Regions from separate parts of the Homo sapiens genome. Here region 1 is linked to region 2. A link means that fine-mapping ties the variant in region 2 to the expression of a gene that starts in the linked region. Tissue or cell type: nasal epithelium. Region 2 holds a variant in brackets; the other region holds the start of a gene. All regions are shown on one strand. Distances are from middle to middle.

Region 1 (8,108 bases), 86 kb after region 2:
CATATGGCAATTTTTTTTGTTTTGAGACAGGGTCTCACTCTCTTGCCCAGGGTGGAGCGCAGTGACACGATCACAGCTCACTGCAACCTCAAACTCCTGGGCTCAAGGGATCCTTCTGCCTCAGCCTCCTGAATAGTTGGGTGAGACTACAGGTATGTGCCACCACACCCAGCTAATTTTTTATTTTTTTCTGAAGAGATGGGGTCTTACTATGTTGCCCAGGCTGGTCATTGTACTCTTGGCCTCAAGTGATCATCCTGCTTAAGCTTCCCAAAGCACTGGGATTACAGGAATGAGCTCACAATAATTCTATGTTTAACTTTTTGTGGAACTACCAAATTGTCTTCCACAGGAGCCACACCATTTCACATTCCCATCAGCAGTACGACAGGGTTCTAATTTCTACACATCTCCACACAAAAACCAACACTTGTTTTTGTGTTTTGTTTTGTTTTTTGATGATAGCCCTTCTAGTAGGTGTGAAGTGGTATGTCATTGTGGCTTTGATTTGCATTTCCCTAATGACTAATCACAGTAAGTTTCCTTCCATGTGCTTTTAGGCCATTAGTATATTTTTGGAGTAATGTCTACTCAGATCCTTTGCCTATTTCTGAATTGGGTTGTGTGGAGTTTTTTGTTGTTGAGTTGTAGGGGGTCTTTATAATATTGATGCCTTATCAGATATATGACTTGCAAGTATTTCTCCCATTTGCTGTGCTGTCTTTTCACTCTTTTGATAGTGCCCTTTGATGCATAACAGTTTTTAATTTTGATAAAGTCCAATTTAGCTATTTTTCTCCTGTTGCCTGTGCTTTTGGTGTCATACCCAAGAAGTTTTCTTCTAAAAGTTTTATAGTTTTAGCTTTTACATATAGGTCTCCAATCAATTTTGAGTTAATTTTTATATATGATATAATGTAAGGCTCCAACTTCATTCATTTGCACATGGATATGCAGTTTTCCCAGCATCATTTGTTGAAAAGACTGTCCTTTCCTCCTTTCCCCATTGAATGGCCTTGGCATCCTTGTCAAAAATCAATGGACCATATATGTAAGAGTTTATATCTTGGCTCTCTATTCTATTCCATTGGTCTACATGTTTGTCCTTATGCTGTGTATTAGGCTGTTCTTGCACTGCTGTAAATACCTGAGACTGGGTAATTTATAAAGAAAAGCGATTTAATTGGCTCACAGTTCTGCAGGCTGTACAGGAAGCATGGTGTTGGCATCTACTCAGCTTCTGGGGAGGCCTCAGGGAGCTTTTACTCATGGTGGAAGGCAAAGTGAGAGCAGGCATCTCACATGGCGACAACCAGATAGGGAGAGAGAGAGAGAGAGAGTGGGATGGCGGAGTTGCCACACACTTTTAGATGACCAGAGCTCACTTATCACAAAGGGGATGGCCCAGGCCATTCATGAGGGATCCGCCCCCTATGACCAAAACACCTACCACTAGGACCCACCTCTAATATTGGGGATTATATTTCAACATGAGATTTGGGTGGGGACAAACATCCAAACTATATCATGCTGGTGTTTTTCATTTGTTTGTTTTTTGTTTTTTTTTTTAATAAAAGATTGTAGTGTTCTGCCATTATCCTGTCATTACATAATTCTAAAATTAAAAAAGAAACATATATCCTTATCATTGCCTGTTTCTGTCAAGCTCAATAAATGTCCTTAATGGTTCATAGTATTGTAAAATTACTGTGTCAAAAATGCTTAAGCATTTGTCAAAGGCCTCTTACTCCTCCTTTGCATTCACTGCTAGTAGGCATTGCCCTGGACTTTACTCTGATTGAGTAAAAGCCAAAGTCCTTTTATTGAAATGGCCAAGGTCCTGCATATTCTGGCCATTCACTGCACACCCACCTGACTGGCTGCATTTCCCGATTCTCATTCTTGCTTCCTTATTGTTCCTCCAACATACCAATACAGTACTCCTGCCCATAACCACCTTGTCTAAATAACAACCTTGACAGAGCAGGTGCATCACCATCATGGACAAGCACTGCCATTTTAAAGTTCCCCTTGATCAAAAACCACCTAAATCCAAACAGCATCAGCCTAATGGCTAAGGTCAGCATGACCATACACCACAAATGACATCTCCGACCAGAAACATTCCAACCCTAAGATAAACCCCTCCCTGACCAGAGACATGCGAGCCCCGAGATAACCTCCCCTCCGACAGAGACATTCCAACTTGGCAATAAACTTCTTCTCCAAACAGAAACATTCCACGCCTGTGATAAGCTCTCTCACTCTAAAATCCTTAAATACTCTTAGTCTGTAAGAGAGTGCTCCTGACCGAAATCGGCCAGAAGCCCCTCTTAGGTTTATTCTTCCAAATAACACTGTCTGACTGTTGAGCTGCTATTAGTGTTTCTTTCCTCTTTCTTTAACTCTTACAAACTCCTTGCCCCATCTCCCATAGCTCCTGGCTCAACCTCCTGAGTAGCTGGGACCACAGACATGTACCATCTTGCCTGGCTAATTTTCTATTTTTTGAAGAGTTAGGGGGCAGTTCTCACTTTGTTGCCCAGGCTGGTCTTGAACTCCTGGGCTTAAGAAATCCTACTGCCTCGGCCTCCCAAAGTGCTGGGGTTACAGGAATGAGCCACCACGCCTGACCCCTATTTCTTCATGGCATTTGTCAGTGGCTGACACCCTACGTATTTATCTAATTTTTGTTTGTTCTCCCAACACGACTGGAATGTGAGCTTTATAAGGGCAATGACTCAGCAATGAAGAATGAATAGGAAAAAATATAGCGAGTTCTTTATTCATTCATTCAAATTACTATTTATTGAGAACTTACTGTAGACTAGACACAGAAAACACTTTCGACATTAAACATATAGAACTTGTTAAATAGTTATGTTTTGTTCAGTGGTTGTACAAATCTAAAATTAACAATTAAAAGTGTGTGTGTGTTTTTTAAGGGGTGGGTGGGTAGGAAGTCTCACAGATGGCGAGTCCAGAGCAGAAGCCTTGAAGGAAAATCAAGGTGTCAAAGGCAGAGCACACTGCCCCTTAGCTATTGCTCAGTGCACCAGGGTGGAGAGCTGCTGCCAGCCTATTAGATCCTCTCTCCAGGGAATTCAGAATGTGGATTGATCCAAGCTAGTCATTCCCTACTGATCTTTCAAACAGAGGTGAGGCACGCCCGTATGGAGAGCAGTTTCTTTAGCTTGCACAAACCCTGTGTTCGTCACCAGTGTCCAGGACAGGCTGCAGGTGTGGCTGGGGACTGTGATCTTCTTGTAGGGCCTCCTTAGGGATTGTGCAACCACAAAGGCAGAAGCAGCTCTTGCAGAGTGTGATGACGTTCACAACCTATATTTGACTTGTACTATATTCTCATCACTACAGGAGAAGAGGCCCAATGGGAAATGTGTGCTGTTCTAAATATAGCACCTGCCTCCTATACCTGCTAGATTTAGGTTGAATCTTTCACTGCCTGTGAAGGACTTTAGCAGGCCTCAGTGACCGGAAAGATCTACCCACGCTTTCAAGCACAGGAAGGACGGTATTGGAAGGCCTTGGGGTCCAGCCCAGGGCTTAAAGTCAGTTCCATTGGAATGCCATTTTCAGAGAGTTTTCATCCCAGACTCTCCAAGGGTGGCAGGCTCTTGTATCAGCCCTGGGACATGTGTCCTCTAGCAGTCAGGTAGTTAGGCAGGCACCTGTCTATCAATTTGTTGTTTTTCTTCTCAGTTTTCCGGTAAGACTACCCCGAGCTCTTCAATGTTTTCTTTGCTTTTGTTTACATTGAGTGTATGACGCGGGATGGGCTTCGTAGGCTGGTTGTGGGTTATTACAGCTTCCCAGGAAGGGGAGAAACCCAATTCTTGCCAGCACGTGGTGGGCGCAGGCGCTCATAAATACTTAGGAATAAATGAATGTATAAGTGAGTGCATGAATGGGTGAGTGGACACGAAGCTTTCAAGGTGGGTGCAGGGAGGTGGGGGTGTGAAGAGCCATCGAGGCTACCCTGCGGCCCTGGCCCCCAGGCTATCCCGCGACGCGCGTCCACGCCGACCAGCGGAAGGTGCCCAGCCAGTGGGGGCGGGGCGAGCTAGCCGCGAGGACGCGCCCGCGGGGGGGCGGGGCTAAGAGGACGCGCCGGGAGCAGCGGAGCGACGAGGACAGGCCGCGGGGAGGGGCGGGGCCACGGGGGGTGCGCCGGGCGGAAGGGGCGGGAAGAGGGCGGGCCCGGCGCGCGGTAGCGCGGGCCCCTCAGTGCACAATGGCTAGAGCAGGCGGCGGAGCCCCAACCCCACCCAGTGCGGAGCGCGCCGCGAGCCCCGCCGCAAGCTGAGCGCCTCCGCCCGCCAGGCGCGCCGGCGCCGGGCCATGTACTCGGGGAACCGCAGCGGCGGCCACGGCTACTGGGACGGCGGCGGGGCCGCGGGCGCTGAGGGGCCGGCGCCGGCGGGGACACTGAGCCCCGCGCCCCTCTTCAGCCCCGGCACCTACGAGCGCCTGGCGCTGCTGCTGGGCTCCATTGGGCTGCTGGGCGTCGGCAACAACCTGCTGGTGCTCGTCCTCTACTACAAGTTCCAGCGGCTCCGCACTCCCACTCACCTCCTCCTGGTCAACATCAGCCTCAGCGACCTGCTGGTGTCCCTCTTCGGGGTCACCTTTACCTTCGTGTCCTGCCTGAGGAACGGCTGGGTGTGGGACACCGTGGGCTGCGTGTGGGACGGGTTTAGCGGCAGCCTCTTCGGTGAGTTGGACTGGGAGAAGGCAGCCTCCCCTCTGCAAACTTCCACTCCCCACCCCGCTGCCCGCTCCGTGCGTCCGCCCCCCAGCCCGCCCCGCACCGCTTCCCGCTCGGCCCCGCGCCCCCCGCCCTACACCGCCCCGCTCCCCGCTCGCCTCCTCAACGCTGCCCGACCCCAGCCGCATGGCGGGTGCCTTCCTCTTCCTCCGTCCCCTCCCGCCCCACGCTGTCCAGGACTCCATTCCTGTGGTCTCTCATCTGCCCCCCACGTTGACCCCAAACCCCGGCCCGCCTCCTTTCTTATTTGTTTTTACCTCCTAAGATCACTCAACAAGGCACGAAACCACGGCTTTTTACACTTTGAGGAAAGAGACGAGGGCCTGTAGAGTCAAGAGATTCAAGAAAAAAAGTGATTAACTCGTGAAAGTTGGAGGGAGTGATGAGATTAGATTCATGTACTACTATTTGTTTCCTAAAATGAGAGTAGAAAACCAAAATAACAATGTGTAAAAAAAAATTCTCATTAGTACTTGTAAACCTTTGAATGCTTTCTAGGGAATGAGACAGTTTCATTCAGGTCCTCAGAATGCAAATTGGCATGTGCCCTGTAAGCTGTTTTTACTATTTTCCGTCTTATAGATGGGTTCCAGCACACCAGAATCTTGGGTGAGATTACAAATGGCTCAGCCAATACCATCTCAGGTGAACAAATACTGTAATTAGCTCTGCAATCGGTAGATTTCATTAAAGTAGAACTTCATTGTTGAAGATGTATTTCGACAGTACTCTTATTATGGAAGATTTAAGTTTCACTGAGACATGATGTTTTGAAGGATGATCAACAACTCAGCAAATCATTGAAGGAAGCGTAGAAAGGAAATTATTTTTTTGTGTGCCTCAGGAATTTCATTTGTAGGGAGATTTGAAATAGAAATGTGTATTTCTCAAGGCTTAAAGTTCCTTTTTTAAATCCTGAAATCCATTGATACTTTATTGCTTTAATCTTGGTAGGTTTGGGAGAACAAAAATCTTTGTAGAATTATCAAAAATATTTTCTTATTCAGTAACCTCTATGCTATGACAAACCCAAATATTATATTTGTAATGATTCATTTTTTGGCGTTTTGAAGGAAATAAGAAAATAGATTTTATTTGATTGCTTCAGAGGTTATAATATTTTCCTCCCCGCCCCTCATAAGCTTTAATCTGATAATTTCATTTGAACAAACATTTGAAATTTAGGGAGGGGACTGCAAGTGTATGTAGGCTGTGGTATGGACGACTATGGGATTACACTCCTTATATTAATTGTAAAATACCTATCAGGCAGTTTCTTCGGCAATGCTAAGAAGGTTATTCAAGCCCAAGCCTAAAGTATCATCAGTAGTGTTCTCCAGGGTAGTCAACAGGTGTTTGTTCACAGACATCAAAGTTCTTTTTTCCTTGAAGTGCCTTTTCTGTGCTGGAAAATTCTGTTTTCGTGCCCGGGAGTTTGAACACAAGGGTGTACTGAGTTCTTTATAAGTGCTAGCTGTCATCCACCCTCTTCCTCACCTCTTTCCTCTGCTGATCCCACCCTCCTGTGTCTCCTGGTCACTTCTCCCTTCCTGTTTTTCTTCTTCACCATCCCTCCTAGGGTCCCAGCCCAGTGATTTTCTAAGTTCACTTAGATTTTTGCCTGAGGGCTGCCCTATTTTTCAGGGCATTTAGTGCTTTCAACCATGACTTTCTCCCTGTTTTTAATGTAGAGGTGGAAACCCTGAGATAAGAGATTCCGAGACTTAAGCCCTGGGGGGCAAGTTAGTAGTGAAGTTACTATAGAGTTTAAAAAGTTTTTAGCGAAGATGATTTCTTTGCCTGGAGTAAATTCCGGAGTTTGTGCTTCTAGATCCAGGTTAAGGATGAAGAAAAGGAGGGCACTTCCTGAGTTATCCCTGAGCAAGAACTACCTAACAGTGGAGTATTGAAGGGGAGGAAGTTAAAAATGAGGGAAGTAGCTTCTTGATGCAGAGGCTTTTGGAGAGGCTTGCCCTATCTGTTGGAAAGACCATTGGTCTGATGGCACAAGAGTGGATCCTGTTCCTTATCCTGCGACTCATGCATTGTGCGGGCTTTCTCAAGTCACTTAATCTCTCCAGCTATCAGTTCTCTCATCTCTATTATTGGGTAATTCAGCTTAATGCTCTGTAAGGCCATCCTACTTGCTTTGCATTTTGATGACCCCTTTGATATCTGTAGGTTAGAACGTGCCTGATCTTAGCGCTTATTGATTGTGTCTTCTGCTCCTACTCCTACCCTGAGCCCTGTCTTTCTAAGCCAAGAAGCAGCATGTACTATGGTTACACCTCTTCAGATACCATCATAGATTCAGTCTCCATCTTCACACCCTGCTGGAAGAAGCAGAATAAGTAATTCAGACATACTTATATTTATACTTGAGTGGGCCAGGCAACTGCTGCATTCTGTACTTAGTTCCTGGCTTCTTAGGGAATGCCAAAAATGAGTGGAATCCTTGATATTTTTGAGACAGAGGCTTTGACTAGACAGGACTGTTAGGATTGCCATTTTAGTTAAACTAAAGGTGTGTGCCCTATGCAATTTAATCTAAGTTCCAATTGAATGGCTTGTTTTTCCAGTATCCAGGATTATTAGTCATCTTGGGCTAGACAGGTACAGCTTGTACTGATTTATATTTCAGTAGGTTTAACAGTAGTGAAAACCAGAGCTCAAAACTGTGCAATGATGAATATTAGAAAGTTTAGCAGTATTGTTGCTTTAGCCTAAAGACTTTCAGGTGAGTATGCTCTTCAGCACCTTGGCCTTTCTACCTCTGGCCACACAGGGCATCACACAGATGTCTTCCGCACATGGAATGTAACCAGCATTATGCTCAAAGTTAACAGGAGAACCTTATTATTTTTTTTTTTTTAAACTTCCCCTTCAAAAATAAGAACAAACAGTGTTAGTCTTGGCAGAGGATGTTTAGATAGACCTTTTGCTTGGGATGCAGAGATTCAGGGTTGCAGAGACAGTGGCGAAATGCAAACATCACTGTATTCAAATGTTAGAAGTAGGTATTATTTATGTTAAGATATTTTAATATGAAATCAGAAGTTTTCCTTTTTTACTTACACTTACACACTTTTTTCCTTTATTACTTATATGCATGTGTACATTCATATAATATTTTTAATACATTTTCCTCCTCAGGGCTATTATGAGCCTAAATATTTTTAAATGGCCAGTTGTTTTACTGAATTAATCCTTTTGTAATAATCTGACTAGTAATTGAGTAGAAATAGTCTCATGTTGCTACCATGAGATCCTAAGGGTGGTTGTGGCATGGAAAGGTCTTATATTCAGCTGTTCTGGAATCACA
Region 2 (8,109 bases):
ATAGAATACCCAGATAGTTACCTTAGGGAGGCTGTAGTGAATATGTGTATGTGTGTGTGCAAGGGGTCTGAAAGCTGGTAGAGGTGTCTAGAGAAAGTCTAGAGGATAAAATAAAGACACTCAGAAACGCAATAAAAATTACAAAGGAAAGAGTCCCAAAGGGCAACAATCACAAACAGCCTGCCTCATCTTAAGCAAATGTGCAATCATAGCTAAGAGCTCCTGGTTATAGAAGTGTGATAGCCACACTCAGAAGGAAGCCTTATATAGGGACTGCTTCCTGGTCTTGGTAGGCATGTTTGCTCCCAGGACTCAGAGCTATCCACAGGGTCTTCCTTTGAAGGTTGTCAAGGAGCTGTCCTGGGTGATGAACTAAAGAAAAAGCAACAAGACCTGCACATAAGCAAAAAGTATTGCAAGTTGAGAACTGAATTCCAAAGCATGTGCCCTCACCCCTTTTTTCTTAGTTTTTATTTTTTCTTCCTAGATGGCCACTCACATTTTATGTTTTATAATACATAGTATATTTGTCTTCCCCAGAAAATTTTCCTACAGTCACTCAGGAAAGTTTTGAAACAAGTCTTACTCTTAAGAATGTTGCAAACAGTTTACTCAAAAGGGAATGTTCCAAGCCACAGAATGAGGACAAAAGGTAGTAAAATATGAAGGCAGTGAAACCAGGTTCTCAATCATGGATGTTTCCAATTATCAAAGAAACAAGAAAAGTATTTGAACTTGCATCATTTATGATAATCCCATACAAACAGAAAGCACAAGGAACTAAAGCAAGGAAAGATTTCAAATTTTTAAAACTTGAAGGTAACATTTTAAAAGGTTAGTTTTTCTATCTCCAGGTTTATTTCAAATTTACACATTTCTCACTCACCAAAAGGAAAAAAAACTCAATTTTTATCTTAGTGAAGGCTTTGGGCATGACATGATATTTCACTTAGATGTAAAGGATATATAGGATGTCTGGGAATGGGAGGAGAATTGTTTCAGACAAAGACGGGAATGCACAAAGCCTTTGGAGAAGAATTTGGTAAGGCTTGGAATTTCTGAAGCCAAACAAAGCTGAAAAGATATTCTTGTTCCAGACCCTAGAGAACCTTAAGAACTAGAAAAAATAATCTGAACTTTATTTGTAAGGCATGAGGGGCCTTTGAATATATGTGAGAAGGCAATGACAAGGTTATAAATGGGTTGGAGGAGGATCAACATGGCAGTACAATATCTGGATGGTTTGGGGAGAGAAGAAACTGAAGATAAGAGGTCTACAAGTGCTTTCTAATGGGCCACCTGCAACTGGGAGCCCCTTGGTGGATGGGTCTGAACTAAGGCCATGACTCTGGGAAGAAGAATGAGGTAATTTACAGGAGACACATTTCAGAGACTTCAAACTGACCAGTGGCAAGGCTTACAGAGATAGAAGGATCAAAGGTGACTTTGAAGTTGGATTATGGCTCTCTGGGAAACAAATGATACCATTAACAGTTAGAGGAAAATCAGAAGTAAGGAAGAGAAGACTTGAAGTAGAAAATAAATTCAGTTTTAGGTAGGCAGAATTTTTTTTAAAGATAACTGCCTTTGAAGATATGCACACTCACAATCTAGTCAAACTGCCTTTTCTCAGGTTTCTACATACCACTTCCAAAGTGAAAATGTACGAAAATTAGCAACTTTTACATACATTTGTAATCTGTTATAAATCATCAAAGTATGTAAATTTCTCCCCTTCATAGAAAAAAAAAAAGAAGAAGAGAATCAGCCTTTTGGTCAATAGAACTGTGCTTGAGAAGGTTTCCAACCATTGCTCCCATTGGTTTTGCTGATGAAATGAAAGTAAGTGAAGATTATATTTGTCTCTGCATTTTTCAACATTCGTCAGTTCTTCTTCAGGTGTAATAGATGTGGCACATCTGTTCAATACTTGGGCTCTGTGACTAGACATACAATTTTAGCAGTTGGGGAAGAAAGTAATATCCTGGTGGAAAGACTGCAAAATTAGGAGAAAGAATAAAAATCTTGCTATTTTAAGAGCTTAGGAAAAGGCATGTAGTGGGCACACAACTATGCATGGCGATTTATATGCTTTCTGCTTAATGTGATGAAAGCTAATTTATATGAAAGAGTTTGAAGGGATGTTGTCTGTTCCCTTTTCTGTAAATAATAATATAGCTTCAATAAAAAAACCAAAAACATGTATGTGCCTAGTTTGCTTTTTTTTTCTTCTTCTTCTTTTCTGAGACTGAGTCTCGCTCTATTGCCCAGGCTGGAGTGCAGTGGTGCAATCTCGGCTCTCTGCAACCTCCACCTCCCAGGTTCAAGCGATTCTCCTGCCTCAGCCTCCCAAGTAGCTGGGGTTACAGGTGCCTACCACCATGCCAGGCTAATTTTTGTAGTTTTAGTAGTGACAGGGTTCCACCATGTTGGCCAGGCTGATCTCGAACTCCTAACCTCAAATAATCCACCCACCTCAGCCTCCCAAAGTGCTGGGATTACAGGCATGAACTGCGGCACCCAGCCCAGTTTGCTCTTCTTTCTGCCTAAATTGCCCTTTTCCTTTTCCTAGATCTTCACGGGGCTGGTTCCCCTGATCATTCAGGCTTCAGCTTTTATGTCACCTCCTCAGAGGTGAGATTCAATCACACTGCACCACTATGTTTTCTATTTCTTTTCTTCTTCTTTTTCTTTGTTTTTGTAGAGATGGGGTCTTGCTATTTTGCCTAGGCTGGTTTTGAACTCCTGGCCTCAAGCAATCCTCCTGGCTCAACCTCCCAAAGTGCTGGGATTACAGGTTTGAGCCATTACACCCAGCCCTGTGTTTCCTATTTCTTACCATACTTATCATACTGTTTTCTTATGTACTTGTTACTTTGCTTGTTTGTCTGTCTCTTCCCCTAGCATGTCAACTTTCTCATTGCAGGGCCCTGGTCCTCCTTGTTCAATGCTTTGTCCCTAGAACTCAGAACTCAGAACAGTATCTAACACAATAGACACTCAATAAATAAATAAGTATTTGTTAAATAACCAAATGAATGACCTCCTTTCATCTTTATAATGGCCCTCTGGGCTAAACATTCCTACATTTACAGATGAAGAAACCAAATGGAAAGATATTAAGTAATTTTCCCAAGTGGTGCTACTGAGATGCATGAATGAGTATCATCTTAATACACTCATTACATTTAAAAGAAATAGGAAAGATTCTCTCTTCTGTCTCTTCATCTCTGAGCATGAATGATCTCAACTTTTGCTAGAAAGATATCTTATTTCTCTTTAAATTATCTGTAGGAGACTCCAGGTCTCAATCGTAACATGTTTTTAGTTTTAGTGTCTCAAAACCTTCACTGTCTTTCCAGTACTACTTAAAAAAATTAAAATTTCCTAAGCTGGGCACGGTGGCTCACACCTGTAATCCCAGCACTTTGGGAGGCTGAGGCAGGTGGATAACCTGAGGTCAGGAGTTCAAGACCAGCCTGGACAACATGACGAAACCCTGTCTCTACTAAAAATACAAAAATGAGCTGGGCATGGTGGCAGGAGCCTGTAATCCCAGCTACTTGGGAGGCTGAGGCAGGAGAATAGCTTGAACCTGGGAGGCAGAGGTTGCAGTGAGCTGAGATGGTGCCATTGCACTCCAGCCTGGACAACAAGAATGAAACTTCGTCTCAAAAAAAAAAACTTTGTCCTTATTACAAAGTAATGTATATTTACTATTTAAAAAAACAAAGAGAAAACAAAAGAAAAAAATCCATCCATGTATATCCACAATCTTGTTAGCCTCACTAAAACATCTTGCTATTAATCATTTCCAATAACATATGATAGACACGTTATGTTTTAAAATTGATTTAAAATTGATTACTTACATATTATTGTATTTTATATATTATTTAGATATTTTCATATGACTATTCATTTACATAATGTTGAATGTCTATGTGATATTTCTATTGTATATGAGGATACAGCATAATTTACTTAATCAAAGCCTTTTTTTCCTCTTGAATTTTACTTTATTGGTACATCACCCTAATTATCTCTCTTTTTCAACTGCAATATTGAAGTGTAATCTACTTACCTTAAAACTCACCCGCTTTTAGTGTAAGGTTCTGTGAGTTTTAGTCAATTTAAATAGTTGTGCAACCATTATCATAATCTCTTTTTTTAAAGATGGTGTCTCACTATGTTGCCCAGGCTGGTCTTGAACTCCTGGGCTCAAGCGATCCTCCCACCTTGACCTCCCAAAGTGCCAGGATTACAAGCATGAGCCACTACATGCAGTCCCTTGCTCTTTTTTTA[A/T]AAATTAATTTTATTAATGTATTTTTTAACCCTATATAGCCAAATTATTATCACCTCAATATATAATCAATATAAAAACGATTGGCCCAGTGCCATGGCTCAGGCCTATACTAGTGCTTTGAGGCAGGAGGCTCACTTGAGCCCAGAAGTTCGGGCAACATAGCAAGACCCCATCTCTACCAAAAATTTAAAAATTAGCAAATTAGACAGACCTAAAAAAAAAAAAAGAGAGCTCTCTACAAAAAATAAAAATAATTAGCTTCGTACGGTGGCCCCCACCTGTAGTCCCAGCTACTGGGGAGGCTGAGGTGGGAGGATCCCTCGAGCCCAGTAGGTCAAGACAGCAGAGAGCCCCGAGGCTGCAATGAGCCCCATTGCACCATGCCATTGTACTCTAGCCCGGACGACAGAGCAAGATCCTGTCTCAAAAAATTGAGAGTTTTTTTTTTGGAGTGGGGGGATAGTGAATCTTTGGAGTCTTGTGTATTTTACACTCACAGCGGACCTCAATTCGGACTAGCCATGTTTTAAAAATTTGTGGCTACCATATTGGCAGGTGAGGGCTGCTGGCCTGCTGGGGAATCCTGCAGGTCAGGTCACGTCCTCAGTTGTGAACTGGAGGAGGCAGGTGCCGGGTGCATTTTCCTCTCTAGCCTGGGAGGAACCCCTCAAAGGTCCTTAGAGTCTTTCCCTTGTGGTTGCACATGGCAAGCATGGGCTCCAGGGAGATTCGCATAGTTCCGTGAGCATGGAGGGAACGACTGGGCCTTGGAGATCCCGATTGCTTCCATCGAAGGGTTTTGCATCGGGTAGAGGGTGTATGAGGGGTAGGGGGTGTACGAGGAGGGAGGTGCGGGGCTGGGGGACGTGGAGGGAAAGCAACCGGGTTTTTTTCTTTCCCTTCCCTTCCCTCTTTCATTTCCTTTCTGTATTTCCTGTTTCCTCCCTATTTTCTTGTTTTTCTTTTTTCCTTCTTAAATCAATATAAGCAATAGTGCATTGAGCATCCTTTAATACAGATCTTTGCACACTCATCTAGCTATTTTATTAGAACAAATACGCAGGAAGTTTTTGCCAGTTTTATTTCCACCCAGCAGTATGTAAACCTGTCTGTGTTCTTAAACCTTTGCCCTTCACTCCACTTTCTTTCCCCTACTGACTTGCTAAAGATTTTTGGTATTTGTTCAAGGATATTTTTCCAATTTCTCTGCTTTTTATTGCATTTTTGCCCCCTGCCCCTGCTGTCTGCCTTTAACTTTGTTTATGAGTATAGGGAGGCAGGCTGAGGAAGGGCAAATATGGGATTGACCACACTTCGGCACTAGATAGCTCTGTGACCTTGTGTAAGTGATTTAGATGTCATTTTCCCTGACGTGTGTAAAATGGGGAGAATTACTTTATAGGGTTGTTATTAGCATCAATGAGTTGCATATGTAAAATACTTAGCACAGCGCCTGGCACTTAAGCACTCAATAAATGGTAGTTATTATAATTTACAGAAAGTTTGAATGTTTATTTAGTCATATTTACTTTCTCCTTAGTCATAGGTGCTATGCTTAGGAATTACCCAAAAGTTATAAGACTATTCACCTATATTTTCTTCTGGAAATCTAGAATTTCTATGGTTTTGTATTTTAAATTTAAAATCTTTAATTCATATGTAATGTATTGTGCTGTATATTATGAAATCATGATCTGATTACATCTTTCTTTCTTTATGGCTAATCAGTTTTCCCAACACTTATTGAACAAACCATCCTTTGCTCACATATTTGAAACATTATTTCTGTCCTATACAAAATTCCCACATAGACATAAACTAATTCCTGCATTTTCTCCTTTGCTTCATAGATGTGATTATTTCTGCATTGACTATTGCTCTGTTTTATTTATTTTGGCTTTATGATATGCTTTAATATTGGACAGGGAAAGTGCCATCTCATAATTATATCTTCCAAAGTTTCTAGGATATTCCTATATACCAGTATTTTTACATTAACTTTAAACTTGGCAAGCTGACACTTAAGTAATTCTGACTAGCAATAAATAAATATATTAAACTGATGGAGAATATCTTACAGCACAATATTTCCATGTAGGAACATAGTATGTCCCTTAATTTGTGTTCTTAAACACAGTAAAACTTCATAGTTATCTTAATGTTAGTAGTGAATATTGCCTGTTAAGTTTATTCCTAATATTGCATATTTTTTACTCTTGTGAATGCTATCTCTTTGACCTTTTTTCCTCACTAATTATTGTTCTTATATAGACATTTATTTATTTATTTCCTTATTTATTTTTTAGAAATTTTTATTTTATCTTATTTTTAGGTTGCCATTGCAACTAGCCACCTTATGGAATTTATCTATTCCTACACTGAAAGTTGATTGTATTGATCTCTTTTCAAGCAGGTAATCCCATTATTTGCAAATATAATTCAGTCTCTGAATTCTAATATTTATAACTTTTTTTTTGTTTTATTACATTGGTTAGAATGTTTCAAACACTGTTTAATAACAGAAATCCTCATTTTTTTCCTAATGTTCCTATCTATTGAAAGGCCCCTTATGTTTTACTTTTGAGGGTAAAATTTGCCATCTTTTCAATATTGTTTTTCTTTTACACTTGTTTTTAAACGTGTTCTTACTTATGCTATAATCAATAGAAAGAGAGAACATTGGCTTATCATTTCCTTTTCCATACTGACAATATTTTTCTCAATGATTCAATGACTATCATTTATTTCAGTCAAAAATTGTATCATCCCTATGCCTTCCAACAGATAATTTTCCGGAAAAAACTAGTTTTGTTTTGTTATTTTCTTTTTGTTACCTTTGCAGAGGAAAGGCTGACGACATGTTGATCTTTTTCATTGGTTACGATCTCGGCGATACTGAACATGTGTCCTACAAGTTTCCCTACTGGCTTGGTGCTGATATTGGGGTGCCACAACCGGATGACCTTATCATCTCCTGAAAAGGAGGACAGGGAAAGATTGTTGGTTTTCTGAGGTGGTCAGAGTTTCAAATGTATCTCTCACTGTATCATACCCGTATCTTTCTTCGAACAGCAAATCACAGTCCGTTTCTGGCAGGATGCATTATTCTGTGATTGATGTGCTAAGGGGCTGGCCTTGGTTTGGATCTGCTGCTTCTTGTGAAGGCTGTTTTGTAAAGACTGTATTTACATACACAAATGTGAATTCTCATAAATATTTTATGAGTTCTTTTCTTGACTCAATCCTTTCCTATACTTTGATGCATTAATGTATTATTTATACTTTATTTACTTCCAAAGATATTTAAGGCAGCTGTTCTTTTGTTTTCATTCTTAAATTATGCAAACATTATAATAATGAAAGAAATCAAGGACAGAGGAAACTGCACTTAATCTTCACCATTATAACAAATCAACTGTTGTCATTTTTCCGTCTTCCCTTCTAGCATGTATTCATAGGCATATATAATTTATGTGTAGTTACTACCATAGAATAAATATGGTTTTTTAATTGCTAAAAATCATAGAAGGGCATAATTTTTATAAAAATGTCTTTTCCTCCATAATCTCTAACTCCCTGTGGGAAATCACTGTTAACTTTTTAAAAATATAAATTAGATATATTTCTAGATACATATTTATACCCACTACTTTTTTTTATTTAGGAAAGGCCACGAGCTCATGCCCGCATAATTATCCTTTTAGTTACTATTTCAGAATTTCTTAACCCCTTGTCCATTGATTAGTCCACTAATTCTAGTTTTTTACTTTATTCAGCAATACTGCAACGAATGGTTATTGTAC

The links. PIP is the estimated chance that this variant, and not a neighbour inherited with it, causes the effect.
Region 1: CHML starts here. The variant in region 2 is fine-mapped to the expression of CHML in nasal epithelium (TOPMed, PIP 0.97).

What each region holds. Positions count from the first base shown.
Region 1 is chr1:241,636,506-241,644,613 of GRCh38, reverse strand. CHML (CHM like Rab escort protein) reads left to right here and starts at 4,245. Exons shown (of 2, transcript NM_001381853.1): 1 at 4,245-4,732. It overlaps OPN3 (opsin 3), which reads left to right and starts at 4,245. Exons shown (of 4, transcript NM_014322.3): 1 at 4,245-4,732. The coding sequence starts at 4,360. RefSeq lists silencers at 3,916-4,495, 4,826-4,875 and enhancers at 3,978-4,547, 4,548-5,118.
Region 2 is chr1:241,722,468-241,730,576 of GRCh38, reverse strand. It overlaps WDR64 (WD repeat domain 64), which reads right to left. Exons shown (of 28, transcript NM_001367482.1): 10 at 7,141-7,280. All of the region lies in intron 1 of LOC124904603 (a long non-coding RNA gene), which reads left to right. Among named protein-coding and RNA genes, the nearest start is that of WDR64, 74 kb to the right of the region's middle. The variant A/T (reference allele first, on the strand shown) is at 4,306.